Homo sapiens: one gene and its partners. The protein of the gene in region 1 purifies or fractionates together with the protein of each later gene. This does not show direct contact. Each region holds a gene or a part of one and is shown in the gene's direction. Other genes may lie near its edges.

Region 1 (4,186 bases):
ACACTCCCATTACAGTCAGTTAACCTTTATGTTCCCTAAATGAAAATTGTATAAACCTGAGATTTCCGTTGATCGGGTTGCCTAGGAACAGGCAGCAGGTTTTCATAAGACAATGCAGTAGATTGTCACCGATAGGGCTATTAGGAAGTGAGCTGGTTAGCGGTATTATTCCCCTTGCTGGTGTTGGCTTTGGGTAATTATCTGTCTGCCTGTGCGAGACACGCCCATCTTCCTAGGCTTGGGGCAGGTTCATGCAAATGAGATTTCTCAGCCTGCTCCTCTGGAGTCCTGAAGCCAGTTTTCACCCCTGGGCTTAGGAGAGAAACCTAAAAGAGCCAATTTGGATGAGTTTGTTGTTTTCAATCACCTTTCCCCCCTACCTGCAATGACAATATTCTAATAGCCCTATCAGTGACAGTCTATTGCATTATCTTACAAAAACCTGCTCCCTGTTGCTTAGCAGAAAGCTTAGAAAATAACTAGCAAAATGCCCAATTAAAATTTAAAAACAGAGTGATTCTAAGACAACTTTAGTATGTCTTTTCAGTATTTTTCCCTATATGATATATGCACTTGTTTATTTTTCAAAAAGTCAGTGACATTTGCTGTTTTCCCGCTTGCAGTTAAAGAAACCCATCATCCTGGTTTGCCTGGGACTGAGGGGTTTCCCAGTACCAGTGCATGATTATTATCAACACACTTTTTCATAGCTGCATAGCATTCAATCAGTGTGGATAATCCAAACTCAGCTAATTCCCTGTTCTTCTATATTTTAGGTATTTCCTTTTATTAAAAAAAAAAATTCTAATTCCGGTAGGGCAAATTCCTAGAGGTAAGATTACTAGGTGTATGTATAAATTTATGGCTTTTGATGTAGTGTCTGGTTGCCCTCCAGAAAAATACGTGCCAATTTCCACCCCTCCACACTATACCGTCAGAAACCCTTACATCAAACAATGCTTTCATCACTGTCAATCTGTGGGCAAAAAATATGCTTCATCTTGGGGAATGTGTTCTTTATTAGCCGTCTGTGAATTGTCTACTCCTGTCTTTTACCCATGTCTGTTTTGGGATGCTCATCTCTTTTAATCTATAGAACTCTGTATTAAGCATATTAGTCATGAATGTTGAACCATTTTGTCCACTTTTTAAGGCATTTGTGGTTATTCTTGAAAGAGCAAGAGTAATACCTGTTGTCCGGTGTCTTTGAAGAAAGGTGACTTATATCTTAGGTAATTATAGCATCCCCCTAACCTTGAGCACTAAAATATTTTTTGATTGAAGTATTTGGGATGTGAGTATCTCCAAAATGGATAACCCATAGAGGTTCCTTTTTTATTTTCGTTTTATTTATTTTTTTTATTTTTTGAGATAGAGTCTCGCTCTGTCGCCCAGGCTGGAGTACAGTGGTGCGATCTCGGCTCACTACACCCTCCACCTCCCGGGTTCAAGCGATTCTTCTGCCTTAGCCTCCCAAGTAGCTGGGATTACAGGAGCATGCCACCACACCTGGCTAATTTTTTTGTATTTTTAGTAGAGACAGGGTTTTGCCACGATAGCCAGGCTGGTCTCGAACTCCTGGACTCAAGCAGTCTGCCTGCCTTAGCCTCCCAAAGTGTTGGGATTACAGGTGTGAGCCACCACGTCCGGCCTAGAGGTCTCTGTTTAAACAATGTATATTGCACACAGTTTAACTTTTTCTTGCTATCTCAGGCACACCTGTGAACAATAGCAATTTTCTGTGTTACAGTGATACCTCAGCAGCTGTTGAACTATGTAGAGCTTTTGTTCCTATACCATATGGCCCAGACTGCTCTTTAAATAAGATACCTGTTTCTTGTCTTTTCTCCGTCATTTAAATAAGATACCTGTTTCTTGTCTTTTCTCCGTCACTATCAGGCGGCCATGCTGTTTCTTTTGGCTGTTAAAAGCATCCGTGCCTTACCCTGCAACATCCCATCTTCATCAGCAGTGGGATTGATGACTGGCTAACAATGCTTGTTAAATTTCTCTGTAAACAAAAAGCAAATAAGTGCTAATAAGCACAGGCCTAAGGCGCTCTGGTAAAACAGTGAAGGAGCTTCCGAGGGCCACAGTTTTACTTATTCCCTGAGGTTTATAGTTCGCATAGTTAAGGTTATTAAATAAGTGACCTCTGGGTATACAAGCAGATTAGCATGAAGAAATTTGAGAGTCAGAAGGGAAACAGAAAGGGGAGATTAGCAACCACTTGAAAATGTAGCTGCAAATGAGAAACTAGTAATCCAGATGAACAGAATCAGTGTTTAATCTTATTACTTCCCTCAGGAGTGTGGTGGTGGTGTAGGTTTTGTGGAAATGTGGCATTGCTGACCTAGAAATTCTAAAGATCTGGTTTGTAGGCCTGAACCTGTTGGGGAGGGCTTTCAGCATGTTGCACAAGAATTTTTTTTTTTTTTTTTTTTTAAGACAGGGTCTCGCTGTGTCACCCAGGCTGGAGTGCAGTGGCGTGATCATGGCTCACTGCAGCCTTGACCTCCCAGACTCAGGTGATCCCCCTACCTCAGCCTCCCAGGTAGCTGGGACTACAGGTGTGTGCCACCACACCTGCCTAGTTTTTTGTATTTTTTTAGTACAGACGGGGTTTCACCATGTTGCCAGGCTGATCTGAAACGCCTGGGCTCAAGCTGATTCACCTGCCTCCACCTCCCACAGTGCTGGGATTACAAACATGATCCCCCACGCCCAGCCAACACAAAACTTCTGATGCTCTGTTTTCTCATCTGTGAACTGGAGCTAAGGCTAAGTGGTCTGTCTGTTTAATAAGAGTTTGAATCAGATGGCCTGGCATGAAGAGTCACTGGCCTGAGAGAATGTCAGGGGCATTTGTAAATGTGTAAAGGGCTGAAAAATCCTGAGGGATTATTATTATTGCTATTGTTGTTATTATTCACAGACACATCCAACAGCCATTGTCTGCCTCCTTATCTGTCATGCTTTCTGCACGAGCGTCAGCCTGAGCTTCAATCTGTGTGTATATCTGCAGCTTACGTCCTTGCCACCCCTCCAGAACCCAGTTTCATCCTTGTAGGTTTTTCCGAAGCAGGATTTGCACAAGTGGCGTGTTTTCTTAAGTATTTATTTTGCAGGCCATTTACTCGGCATGGCTATTTTTACAGTGGGTAAGGAGCAAGGCTAAAAATAACTTAGCTCATAACCAGACAGGTTCTGCATTTGACATTTACGTGGAATTCATTTGCATCTCATTTGTTCGCCTTTCTGTTTAACAGGTAGAATGTAAGAAAGCTCAGCCGAAAGAAGTCATGTTCCCACCTGGGACAAGAGGCCGGGCCCGGGGACTGCCTTACACCATGGACGCGTTCATGCTTGGCATGGGGATGCTGGGTGAGTCTGGACAGGACCGCAGGTCACCATGGACTGGGAGGGCTATGGAGGCCTCTACTCCCAACTGGGTCACCTACCAGTGGGGCAAACTGCTTCACCTTTCTAAGCCTCAGTTTCCTTGTCTGTAGATGAGGATGATAATTCCCCGTTCCAAGACAGTTGTGATGATTAAGTGTGGGTGTGTGTGTGTGCATGCATGTGTGTGTGTGTGTGTGTGTGTTTGTATTTATAATATTGCCCCATGCCTGGCTTATAGGATATGTTAGACTATTTTCTCTCTTTTCCATCTCCTTCCTCAAAAGAAGGAAAAGTCCCCCTCTATCTGCCTCAGCCCTCTCATCTGAGTGGGAGTTCTTAAGATGTAAGGACTCCTGGCTGACTTGACTTGTGTGGGCTAAGGCTACGTTTTCTAAAACTTGGGAGAGGAGGGAAGTGGTAAGGGTGGGCGATAATCCTGTCTATTTAAATGATTAACATTTTTCTCTTGGGATATCAAAATTTGCATTTAAATGGATGTTTTAAATAGCCTGTTTTACTCTTTATTTGCCAAAAAAAAAAAAAAGATGAAAGACAAAGTGTGTTTGTTCTGACTAAAAATGATTTCTCCTGGCTTTTAGAGAAATTGAGTTGCATATTATGTCCCTTTCCTTAAAAGTATCTCTGTCCGTCCTGCGTAGATAATTGAAAATCTTACCGCTTAAATGGCATGAAAGATGGAGAAAGCAGTGGAGATGCGTAATGGTGTAGGTCGCAACAATAATTAGAAATTTAAAGGCGAGAGAATGGTATTTTAGTGCAAGTT
Region 2 (3,843 bases), on another chromosome or scaffold:
AAAAAAAAAAAAAAAAAAAAAGATAGATTGTGTAAGCCTTTATATAGATTACTAAGTTAAAAGTTTATTTTTAACCTATAATGAGAAATGCATGGTGGGGTCCTGTTAAAAATGTGCATTCTAAGTTCGAAGTCATGAGAATTTTATTTTCTTTTCTTTATTTTTGAGAGGGGGTCTCACTCTGTCGCCCAGGCCGGAATGCAGTGGCGCAATCTCGGCTCACTGCAACCTTCTCCTCCTGGGTTCAGGCAATTCTCCTGCCTCAGCCTCCCTAGTAGCTGGGACTACAGGTGCCTGGCACCACGCCAGGCTAATTTTTGTATTTTTAGTAGAGACCGAGTTTCACCATGTTGGCCAGGCTGGTCTTGAGCTCCTGACCTCAAGTGATCCTCCTGCCTCAGCCTCTCAAAGTGCTGAGATTACAGGCGTGAGCCACCGCGCCCAGCTGAGAATATTATAGTTTCGTTTCTAAAATTGCTCCACAAAGGAAAACCTCCCATCTTAGGGAGATTTTCTCTATCTTTATTTAAAATAACCAAGAAAAGCTTCATTTAAAATGTTTTAGAACATTCTACTTAGTCATATGACTTTAAATATAGTTTGATAAATAGTTTGTTATGTTCTGTATATGTTAAAGTCTAATTGAAGTAGCTTTGTCAAACACTGAAAGTAAGGGCCTCTTAATGACTGGTAGTAGAGGAAAGCCTTGCCACACACAGTCCACGTAATTATTTTTGTGTGGACATATTGTAAACCCCTACCAAACAGATTATTTTTTTAATCCTATTTGGTTAGGTCAGTTATGAAGATGTTTTAATTTTCTGAGCAAAAGTGTAGTTTCTTTAAAAATATATAATTCTTTTCAGCCTGTTTGTTGAGGCTTCGATAGACAGAACGTAGTTGTTGACAGTTTCAGGAGTCTCGTGAGATAGTAGAGCAATAGAGTCACATTGAATAACCCTTGGGATCATATAGGGCTTAGGGAGAATGGCATTGTTTGAAATTTTTTTTGTTGTTTTATTCTCCTACTTAGGGATTTACTTTATAAAAGTGGTAAAACATACTCAGTTTGTTACAAGTCAGATCCACTACCACAAATTCCCTTTAGTGGGCACACTTTTAAGTGTAGGCCCACTTATTTTAAGCAGCGTTTAACTGAGTGAAAGTCTAGTTTCATTAAAAGATCTGTTGATGTGGGTTATAATAGAGTTTGACTTGCATTAGTATCTAACTGTTTCTACTGAGACAGTGGTATTTGTGTTATTAACTTTTGGGAAAGAGGGAGTAGGGAATGATTTAGACATTAAATGTATTCCTTTCTGCCAGGCATGATAGTGTGGAGATTGAGGCTTGAGGCTCGATAACTTGAGCCCGGGAGTTCGAGGCCAGCCTGGGCAACATACTGAGACCCCATCTTTAAAAAAAAAAAAAATTATACACACACAAAATGCTTGGAATAATTTGTGTATTTTTTATCTCAAGTTTGTTTCAAATACTCACATTTCTGGACTATTTCCCCTATTGTTAAGTCTGCTTAATAAATGCCAGCTAGTTTTTATGCCATCAGAAGTGAAATTAAGAAGGCAGATGGACTAAAAGAATCACGTATAAGGGATTTTGAAGTGAAATACATTAAACTCTTGATTACTCTTAAACTATCCACTTTAACGGGTTCTACTTGGACCTTCTTGGTGGCAAGGCCATCTCCTCGGTGTAGGTTATGTGTCAACATTTTGTTCCATTGGCTGTTTTTCAAGTGTGAACTGTTATTTGAAAGGAGAAGGACACGCCAGGGGAGAGCGTGTGAACTGAATACTCAGTGATTTCCTTTAGCCCCAAGGGAAGGATGTATCTAAACACAAAAGCCCTGTCTTGCCGAGGGTTGGAGAGGGATCTGTGTTTCAGTGACTGGTCTGAGAGGAGATGGTTGCCATTTATCAGTAGGAGTCAACAAAAGGAAACTTAATACAGCCCGGCACAGTGGCTCACGCCTGTAATCCCAGCACTTTCGGAGGTTGAGGTGGGTGGATCCCTTGAGGCCAGGAGTTCAAGACCAGCCTGGCCAACATAGGGAAATCCCATCTTTACTAAAAATAAAAAAATTAGATGGACGTGGTGGCTCATGGCTGTAATCCTAGCTACTGAGGAGGCTGTGTCAGGAGAATAGCTTGAACCGGGGAGGTGGAGGTTCAGTGAGCCCAGATCGTGCCACTGCACTCCAGCCTGGGCCACAGAGTGAGACTGTCTCAAAAAAAAAAAAAAAAACCCAAAACTTAATAGCTTGTGTTTGAAAGTAGTTGCAAAACGCGACACCCTTGTTAAGAGTGAGTATGGCAGACACGTGGGGAGTGCCTTTGCTGCTGCTTCCCTCATTAGCACAGATACTTTGGAGTTGACGAACATGTGACGTTTGAAATTGAACGTATGCTTTCATTGAACATTGTACTTTTCCTGGGTCTTTACTAAGGAACATTCCTCATATACTAGACGAAATTGTATCAGATGCTTTCACATCACAAATAGAGCCATTTTGTATTTGATGTTTTGCTTTCAAAATTATGCAACAGTATATTTTGTTTTAACAGAATATAAATAATGCTGGGTAAGAAGAGTGGCCAACTGCCCGATAAGTTAAAATTCCAGTGAGAGAGAACTAGGAAAACTGAGCTCTTGAACAGCTCTGAAAACATTGCGTTGAGGTATCTAGCAATGTCATTTATTATGAATTGTTAGTCAAAACCTGTTTATATGATTTTTCACAGTGGTTTTATACCTAAAAGGCATTGGATCAAGAAACAAAGTTATTACAATTTGGGTCTTCTCTAATGAATTACCCTGTCCGTGTTTATTTAAGTGTAAATGAACATACAGTTATGTGCTGCTTTAATGATGTTTCAGTCAACAACAGACCGCATGTACGACAGTGGTCCCATAAGATTATAATGGAGCTAAACAATTTCTAGTGACCAGTGAGTTGTGTTACAGTTGCCTACGGTATTCAGTACACAACATGCTGTACGGGTTTGTAGCTTAGGAGCAATAGGCTCTAGCATATGGCCCAGGTGTGTAGTTGGCTATACCATCTAGGCATGTGATCCCACAATGACAAAATTGCCTAATGCCACATTTCTCAGAACATATCCCCATCATTAAGCATGGCTGTGTATCCTAAAACTGATCTTTATTTTGGCAGTTTATAAATCATGCATATATTTCCCCCCGCTCCTTGGGGGAAATGGTTTCTCAGATATTTTGCACTTCCTCTTCAAACTCTGAAGTACACAGGCAGTGGTCATGCGGCGTGATCTAAGTTAAAAAGGCGTGGCACCTGTTTACCGGGATCCACCCTTGTGGACTGAGAGTTTAGTCCACATCTGATTCGATGTTTGTAGCCTCACATTTATTATACATCTTTCCACTTCAGAAACATAAGTTGATCTGTAGTCAATGGGTAGTGGTACATTTTGGTCACTTTGCTGTCCTCCACCTGGTTAGATAACCAAGATAGTGTGTGTTCTTCCAAATTGATGGTAATGAGGAAAAGAAAAGCACTTGGAGAATGTTCTGGACAGTTAGAATGATGACAGAAAAGCAGGTCAACAACACCAGAATGTCGATTACGGGCCAGTTATTGAGCCCTAAGAATCAGAGTTCTGTACCTTGCATTTTCAGGGATTTTCAATGTTAATATGACCCCTAAGTCCTAATTTTAGGAAAACAGAATTTGATGTGTAAAATATGTGTAAGAATAATCATAGCTTATGATGACATAAAAGTTTACGATGCTGGTATTGCCTTTGAGTTGATAAACAATTTCAGTGGGCTGATTTGTGGCAGCCCTTG
Region 3 (3,843 bases), on another chromosome or scaffold:
TGGAAGTCCCCTGCATGCTCCCCCGTCCCCCCTCCCCCCTCCCCCCTCCCCATGGCCAGCTTCTCTGTCTTCTTTTGAGTATCTGGCTCAGATTTCTTGGCTGTGATTCTGATTGTTACTTCTCTGAGAAGGAGAGTTTGAGTAAGGTGAACACTCTTGATCCAGTCAGCTCTTGCCAGGTGTCCACTCAGCTGATTTGGGCACGGGTCCAGAGAAAGAGGGGTGGAAGTAAGGTGGCCAAAATCTCCCCTTAGCCATCACAGGTGTGCAGAGCACAGACTGACCTTTACCACATGGATGCTTTAAATGCCACTAATGGCTGTCAGTCACCTTGATGTCACTCTCAAGGGTCCCTCTGGTGACTTCCGTGACCTTCTGGCAGAGCACAGCATGAGCAAGGCCTCAAAGGAATGCCTGCACTACCTCTGTGGTACCAGAGGGAAAATACAAAGTTCACTATCACCAGCTAAGCATCTCCTAGGAGCATGACAGGCATTGAGGTGGGAGGGAGGTGGTGGAAAGGTAAGCTGCCAAGTAAGTGCCTTTAGGAGCCAGGGAATTCTCATGGCGCCTCCCTGCTGCCTCCAGTAGCTTCGTCATCTTTACTGTTAGCTTGTCCTGGCACACAGCTAGGTTTAGACCTCTTTTACTTACTTCAGCAGGCCGTGTGCCTGCCATTGTGAGAGCAGCCCCAAGGGGATTGAAGGAATGTTTTCTTTTTTCTTCTTAAAAAGTAACTAACTGGACATTTTGTCCTTGGGATCAGGTTTAAGTCAGGTATAGCCTCCCGGTTTCTGACTGAGAAAAACCAGGAGCCCCTCAACCTCATGTCCTCAGGAGGTTGACTGGGAAGGCTGCTGAGGCTCCCGGGACAGGTGTGGCCACTTTGCTGCAGCCTCCCTCAAGCCCCTTGCTTTTCCTTAGCTTTGTTCCCCCCTCTCCTCTGCTTTATTCCATCCACTCCCTTGCTAGGTATCTCTTGGTTGGTGATCTGATGTCTGGAGGGAGGCTCACCCTCAGCAGAGATGCCTCAGATGGCTTCCCCTGACGTGTGCTGTCTTGAGGCACACAGGCTGTAACTGTTGGGCAGGGCTGCAACAAGTCCCTTTGCCTTCCCACAGCAGATGTTTTTTGAGCAACAGCAGCAAGCCAGGCTCTAGGGACATGGCTAGTGAACTAAATAGACAAAGACCTGATCTGGTGGGGCTTTGCTTATGATGAGGAGACTGATAGTATGGCCATGGAGCACATCAGGTAGTAAGAAGCGCTGGAGAGATTAAAGCAGAGTGAGGGATGGGAAGGGAAGTTGGCTGCTTTTCGTGAGGGTGATTGGAAAAGGCCTCTGAAAAAAATGGCATTTTAACATTCACTCAAAGGACATTGGAGAGGGAGCTACAGGGCTGTCTAGAGTATCCAGGCAGAGGGAAGAGCTAGTGCAGGACCCTGAGGCTGGAGCCTGCTCGGTGCATTAGAGGAACAGTAAGAAGACCGGTGCGTTAGAGGAACAGGAAGTGGATTGTGTGAAAGGGTATGTGGCAGGAGATGAGGGGATGGTGGAGCCTCGTTGGTTTTTATAAAAACGTTGCCTTTTTCTAACTCAGGTGAGAGCCACTGGCTGGCTTGGCTTTTAATGCCCGCCCCCGCCCCCCCAACCCACGCTCCTTCTGGCTACTGTGTGGACAATGGGCTTTTGGGGGCAAAGGCAGAAACAGGACACTGGTTGTATCCCAGGTGTGTGGAGTGCCAGCTCAGGCAGTGGGCAGAAGTGGTGCCAGGTGGACAGTGATCCCCAAAGAGCATGTGGGTTCTTCGCTGTGTTCTGATCTTGACCCTGCCATACAACGGGCTATGAGAGCTTGAACAAATTGTCCCACAGTTCCCAGCTTCCACATGCTGTCTATAAAATGGGAGTAACGATGCCTGCTGTGAAGCAAATGCCTATCGAGACTACCCAGTTGTCTCCAAAGTGTTGCTCTTTTTTAAAACCACAGTTCCATTGAGCCTCACTCATCGCAGTTGTTATGTCTGTAATCTCAGTCTAGAAGAGTCCTTACGCTGTTTTTTTCTTAATAACTCTGATTTCTTCAAAGAGAGCAGGCTAGTTATAGAATACTCCACATCTGTCTTACTGTTTTCTCATGGTATTGTTTAACTTGTTCCCTGCCTTGATTTTCTGAACCGGATGTTTAATCTTTTAAGTGTCTGAATAGATTCCGTTTAAACATTTTAGTGTGAGTACTTCATCCTCAGCACACATGGGAAACATCACTAGTTGTGATGCTAAATTTGATCTTTTCTGTAAAGGTACATTTTTCCCTTTGCATTTAGCAGTGATCTGTGGAGTGCTTAGGTAGCCATAGATGGTCTCTTGCTCATCAGCCTTTCACCTAGTGGTGTTTACACCATCTGATCATTCTCCCCTGAAGAAGTCACTGGCATTCACAAAGTGTTGATTTTTAAAATTCCTTCATTCTTTCTAAATTTATTAGCTGTTATCCTTCTATAAGATAAGGTAAAGTAATTCTTTACCTTTAAATACCAAATTTTATTTTTATTTTTTGAGACAGTGTCTCTGTCACTCAGGCTGGAGTGCAGTGGCTTGATCATGGCTCACTGTAGCCTCGACCTCCCAGACTCCCATCCCGGCCTCCCATCCGGCCTTCTGAATAGTTGGGCATACAGGTGCATGCCACCTGTCCTAATTTTTGTATTTTTTGTAGAGACGGGTTTCGCCAGGTTTCCCAGGCTAGTCTCAAACTCCTGGCCTCAAGTGATCCACCCTCCTTAGCCTCCCAAAGTGCTGGTAGTACAGGCATGAGCCACCGTGCCCAGCCTTTAATTACCAATTTTTAAAATGAAAAATGAATGTTAACTGATGGGGTATTGCCATTCCCAGTGGGGGCAAGTGACTTTTTCCCCCTCTATTTGCTTTGACTGTACTGTGGGCTGAAATTTTTTGTCAGGGCCTTAAGATCAATGATACCCATTATTCTTTTTGATGCTAATATCATCCTAAATTTGGCCAGTAGGAGCCCTTTAAGCTGGCTCCAGTACCTTTTTGACAGGCTCCCACCATTCCTTCATCCATTTCTCGGTTTCACTACTCTGGTCCAATTATCAGCCATCTTTCAAAGAGCTCTGGTTCCTTTCAGTGGGGTCCATGACCTTTTTTTTTCTTGGTAACAGCTTTATTGAATATAATTTACATACCATAAATTCACCTATTTACTCATAGATGTTTTAACTAGAACATTTTTAGGCTTAAACTGATTTTTATGAATTACTGAGGGGTTTATTGTATCCATAAACTGGAAATCATTTGTCTGCCTTGGAATTTTCTCTAAAAATATTGTCACCTGCTGTTTCCCATGGAAGAAGCCAAGGTTATGAATAACTTAATCACATAGCATTCAGTTCTCCCTTTGGTGCTCATGGTGACATTTGTTTATTTTTACTTCTATTTTTTCTTCTGTTTTTTTGTTTTCTTTTCCTGCTAAAAAGCTTAACCAAGTCTCTGCATTCCCTCCCCTGGACCCCTTTGATTTTGACCAGGTGTATTCTAGCAGTGCAGAAAGTCGGGGAGGTAGAAATAACCAGTTCTTAGATGCTACTGTCTCTTTCTGTTACATTTGCTCTTCCTCTCCCAGGAGCTCAAGCCACCTTGGCCTGCATTCATTCCTCGAATGCTCCAAGCCTTTTCCCACATGGAGGTCTCTGCCCCTTTGCTTAGGTGCCACCACACTGCCCCCACTCCCCACTGCATGACAGGCTCTTTTCTTTATAGCACAGCTTAAGTAACACTTTGGATGCATACATGCATGCTTCTAATTCTGCAACAATGCA
Region 4 (3,843 bases), on another chromosome or scaffold:
ATTCTCAGCCCCGGGCCTCTGAGGCTGCTGGCTCTATCCTTTGCCAAGATTTATGCCCCAAGTCTCCTTGAGCTGCTGTTGTCTTTTGAGTGGTGCTTTTTCTTTTTTTTCTCCTTCTGCCTTTTTTTTTTTTTTGAGATGGAATCTCGCTCTTGTCGCCTCCTGGCTGGAGTGCAGTGGCGTGATCTCGGCTCACTGCAATCTCCGCCTCCCGGGTTCAAGCGATTCTCCTGCCTCAGCCTCCTGAGTAGCTGGGATTACAGACGCCCACCACCATGCCTGGCTATTTTTTTTTTTTTTTTGTATTTTTAGTAGAGATGGGGTTTCACCATGTTGGCCAGGCTGATCTTGAACTCCTGACCTCAGGTGATCTGCCTGCCTTGGCCTCCCAAAGTGCTGCGATTACAGGCATAAGCCACCATCCCTGGCCTTTTTCATTTTTATTTTTTGAGACAGGGTCTTGCTCTGTTGCCCAGGTTGGAATGCAGTGGCATGATCATGGCTCACTGCAGCCTCAGCAACCTCCTCCCCACGAGCCCAAGCCATCCTCCCTCCTCAGCTTCCTGGCCTCCTGAGTAGCTGGAACTACAGGCACATGCCACCATTCCTGGCTAATTTTTGATATTTTTTTGTAGAGATGGAGTTTTTCCATGTTGGTCAGGCTAGTCTCAAACTCCTGGGCTCAAGTGATCCCAAAGTGCTGGGATCACAGGCGTGAACCACTGCTGCTGGTTGAGTGGTGTTTTTTCTTAGCTCTGCTGCAGAACCCCACTCTCTGGAGGCCTCTTGCTCCTGGTGGGGAAAGCTTCTTGGTTTACCCCTGAGACCTCCATGTGCAGTGGGCATTTAATTCAAATTGGAGATCTGGCTGCAATCCAGTCCACACTCCTCTCTCCAAACCAAGCACCCTGGCCAGGGATGCAGCCACAAAGAGGGAAGGGCATCTTCTAATTTGTACCAAGGAGCTGTATGTGCCAGCAGCAGCCTTGCTGGGGCCCCAGGGTTCAATGTTGCTATCCTGTTTCCAGCCTTCCCTGTTTCTCCTGAGATGCTCAAGCTGAGAGCCATTGCTCCAGACCCAGGACTGCCTAAACATTGCCTGGGCTCAGTTCTCCCTAGACCCTCACGAGCCGTCACCTGTAATTACAGCTGGCTTCCATGGGGGTGGTGTGGGCAGCCTCCTATCTACTGTATTTGAGAGACTTTCCCAAAAGGACCTCAAGCCCTCCCGTCTCAAGTCTTCCTTTTTCCCAGGGGTCCTCTTTTCACATGAGGATGGCCTGGGATCACAGCCCCTGAGGACCCTGGCAGGATAACTGGGCAGCCCTCTGCCTTTTTCTGACCCGGAGAGCCCGGAGCCTCTGGCAATGTGGTTGCAGAGGTGATGACGACAGACAGTATGCAGCGCTCTGTGTTTCCAGCAGAGGCCAGCTGGCCTGTTCCCATCTGAGTTTAAGGTTCTGCGACTGTCTAGTCTCCCCTGCTGCTCTGGCGGACAGAGGTTGGCCGGCACACACAGTGTGGGGTGGGGTGGGGACAGGAGGTGTTTGTGCTCCTCAGCTGGCCCTCGGCTCACCTACCGCATCTGGGATCTTGCAGATTATGCCAAGGAGCACCTGGCTCAGCTTCAGGAGAAAGCTGAGCAGATCGCAGGCCGCATGCTCCGCTTCTCCGTCTTCTACCGCAACCATCACAAGGAGTACTTCCAGCATGCCAGGTATGGGCGCGGGCTCCCGGCTGGACCCGCCGGGCCTCTCCTCCCTCCCAGCCCTTCCTGCTCCTGTCCTGGCTGTCTGAGGTCACCCCCACCCTCGTGGCTGCCAGTCCCTCCTCTAGGGTTGACATGTCCTGACGTCACCAGGCTGGCTCTGAAGAGACTGCTACTTTGGGGATTGGGCTCAGGGAAGATCAAGGGCTCTGGGGACAGGGCCTTCTGCAAGAGTGTTGTACTAATGAGCCTGGGAGAATGAGGTCTGGGTTTGCTCCCACTCTGGGACAGTTCCTTTCACAGGGGTCTACCACCACAGGTCTCTCCGATTCAGGCCCTGGGGCCAAAGGGAAGGTGGCAGGGAGTGCACAAAATGAGTGTTCTGATCACAAAGGGTTCGAGGAAGCACCCAGCTCGTCGGTTTTCAAACTGGGTGCTCCCTCCAGGGAGACATGTCAGTGAACCCCTTAGAATGCTGCCATGGGGTTGGGGGGACCAGAGGTTGAGGCTTGGTGGGCCCCACACCTGACCTCCAGTCAGAGTAGCCTCAATTTTATTTGCCTGTGACCCTTCCACGTATAATTTCTTTTGGGGATAAAAAGAGAGTTGCTGCAGTCCAAAAGTGTTTGAAAATTGGTGATCTGATCCAACACCCTCAGCCTACAGAAGAGGAGCCTGAGGCCCAGAGGGAAGCACTTGTTCATTCGAGCCAGGGAGTCACTTGTTACTGAGGACAGCCAGGACCAGGCAATGTGAGGCAGGACCAGGAGTACCCACCATCCCCGGGCCTGCTGGCAAGTGCTCCAAGGCCGCATCCTTCTGAGGCTCAGCCAGGGCAAGCAGCTGCTCTGCCTTTTTTTTTTTTTTTTTTTTTGAGATGGCGTCTTCTCTGTCACCCAGGCTGGAGTGCAGGGGCGCGATCTCTGCTCACTACAACCTCTGCCTTCTGGGTTAAAATGATTCTCCTGCCTCAGCCTCTTGAGTAGCTGGGACCACAGGTATGCGCCACCATGCCCGGCTAATTTTTGTATTTTTAATGAAGTGGGGTTTCACCATGTTGGCCAGGCTGGTCTCAAACTCCTGACCTCAGGTGATCCGCCCACCTCGGCCTCCCAAGGTCCTGGGATTACAGGCATGAGCCACCACGCCCGGCCTCTGTCTGTCTTTATCCTTACAGTCAGGGCAGTTTTAACCTCAGGGCAGTGAGGACCTTGGGAGTCTTTGGGGTTTGTATTAAAGAAGCAAGGCCTGCTTGGTGGCTCAAGCCTGTAATCCTACCACGTTGGGAGGCCGAGATGGGATCTCTTGACCCCAAGAGTTCAAGACTAGCCTGAGCAACATAGTGAGACCCCAGCCTCTGCAAAAAATTTAAAGAATTAGCCGGGTGTGGATTGCTTGAGCCCAGGAGTTCGAGCTTGCAGTGAGCTGTGATTGCACCACTGCACTCCAGCCTGGAAAGCAAGTCAGTGGCCCAGTTTGGGCTCCTTTATCAGCGAGAGTGGGAGAGATAGAGAGCACTCATGGGTGCCAGGCACCTTACTTGGTGCCAGGATGTAAAGATAAAGGCACAGTTCACTCTTTTGAGAACCTCAGAATCCAGTCAGAGAGACAGTATGGAAAGATTTCATGTAAAAAGTACGTGTAATTGTTGAGCACAGTTCAGTGTCCTGGCCAGGTGAAGTGGCTCACACCTGCAATCCTAGCACTTTGGGAGGCTGAAGCAGGAGGATCACTTGAGGCCAGGAGTTCAAGTCCAGCCTGGGCAACATAGTGAGAAGATTGGGTGTCCTGCACATAGTAGGAAGCCAAAAATTTGTCAAGTGCAGGTGTCTGCTGTTCCTGGGAGGTTTTAGAGGGGAGCAGACGCTTGACTGAAGCTTGAAGGCTAATTAGAAGTTTGCCAAGCCAGACGGAGGAAGGTGGAGAGGGCAGTCAGTGCAGCAGAGGGAAGAGTCCTGCATAGGGGTCACGGAGGCAGGAGACTGTGTGTGCAGGGGGTGGGTAAGTGGATGGGGTGGCAGGAGGTGGGGAGTGGCAAGGAGACCACAGAGATCAGATCATGAGCCGCCGTGTTTTTCACACACACCCCATCAAAGGGTTTCAAGCTGGGGAGTGACAGCTTCATATCTCTTCTC

The links. The genes of interacting proteins can lie anywhere in the genome.
Region 2: the proteins of MSI2 (region 1) and USP10 purify together in Homo sapiens (affinity purification with western blotting; one study listed by BioGRID). This does not show direct contact.
Region 3: the proteins of MSI2 (region 1) and FKBP1A fractionate together in Homo sapiens (co-fractionation; one large-scale study listed by BioGRID). This does not show direct contact.
Region 4: the proteins of MSI2 (region 1) and PHYHIP purify together in Homo sapiens (affinity purification with mass spectrometry; one large-scale study listed by BioGRID and IntAct). This does not show direct contact.

What each region holds. Positions count from the first base shown.
Region 1 is NC_000017.11:57,612,701-57,616,886, forward strand, and holds part of MSI2 (RNA-binding protein Musashi homolog 2), read left to right. Parts: intron 1-3,269; coding exon 3,270-3,384; intron 3,385-4,186.
Region 2 is NC_000016.10:84,748,157-84,751,999, forward strand, and holds part of USP10 (ubiquitin carboxyl-terminal hydrolase 10), read left to right. Parts: intron 1-3,843. UniProt on the Homo sapiens protein: Hydrolase that can remove conjugated ubiquitin from target proteins such as p53/TP53, RPS2/us5, RPS3/us3, RPS10/eS10, BECN1, SNX3 and CFTR.
Region 3 is NC_000020.11:1,386,555-1,390,397, reverse strand, and holds part of FKBP1A (peptidyl-prolyl cis-trans isomerase FKBP1A), read left to right. Parts: intron 1-3,843. UniProt on the Homo sapiens protein: Keeps in an inactive conformation TGFBR1, the TGF-beta type I serine/threonine kinase receptor, preventing TGF-beta receptor activation in absence of ligand.
Region 4 is NC_000008.11:22,222,100-22,225,942, reverse strand, and holds part of PHYHIP (phytanoyl-CoA hydroxylase-interacting protein), read left to right. Parts: intron 1-726; exon of another isoform or gene 727-1,501; intron 1,502-1,599; coding exon 1,600-1,717; intron 1,718-3,843. UniProt on the Homo sapiens protein: Its interaction with PHYH suggests a role in the development of the central system.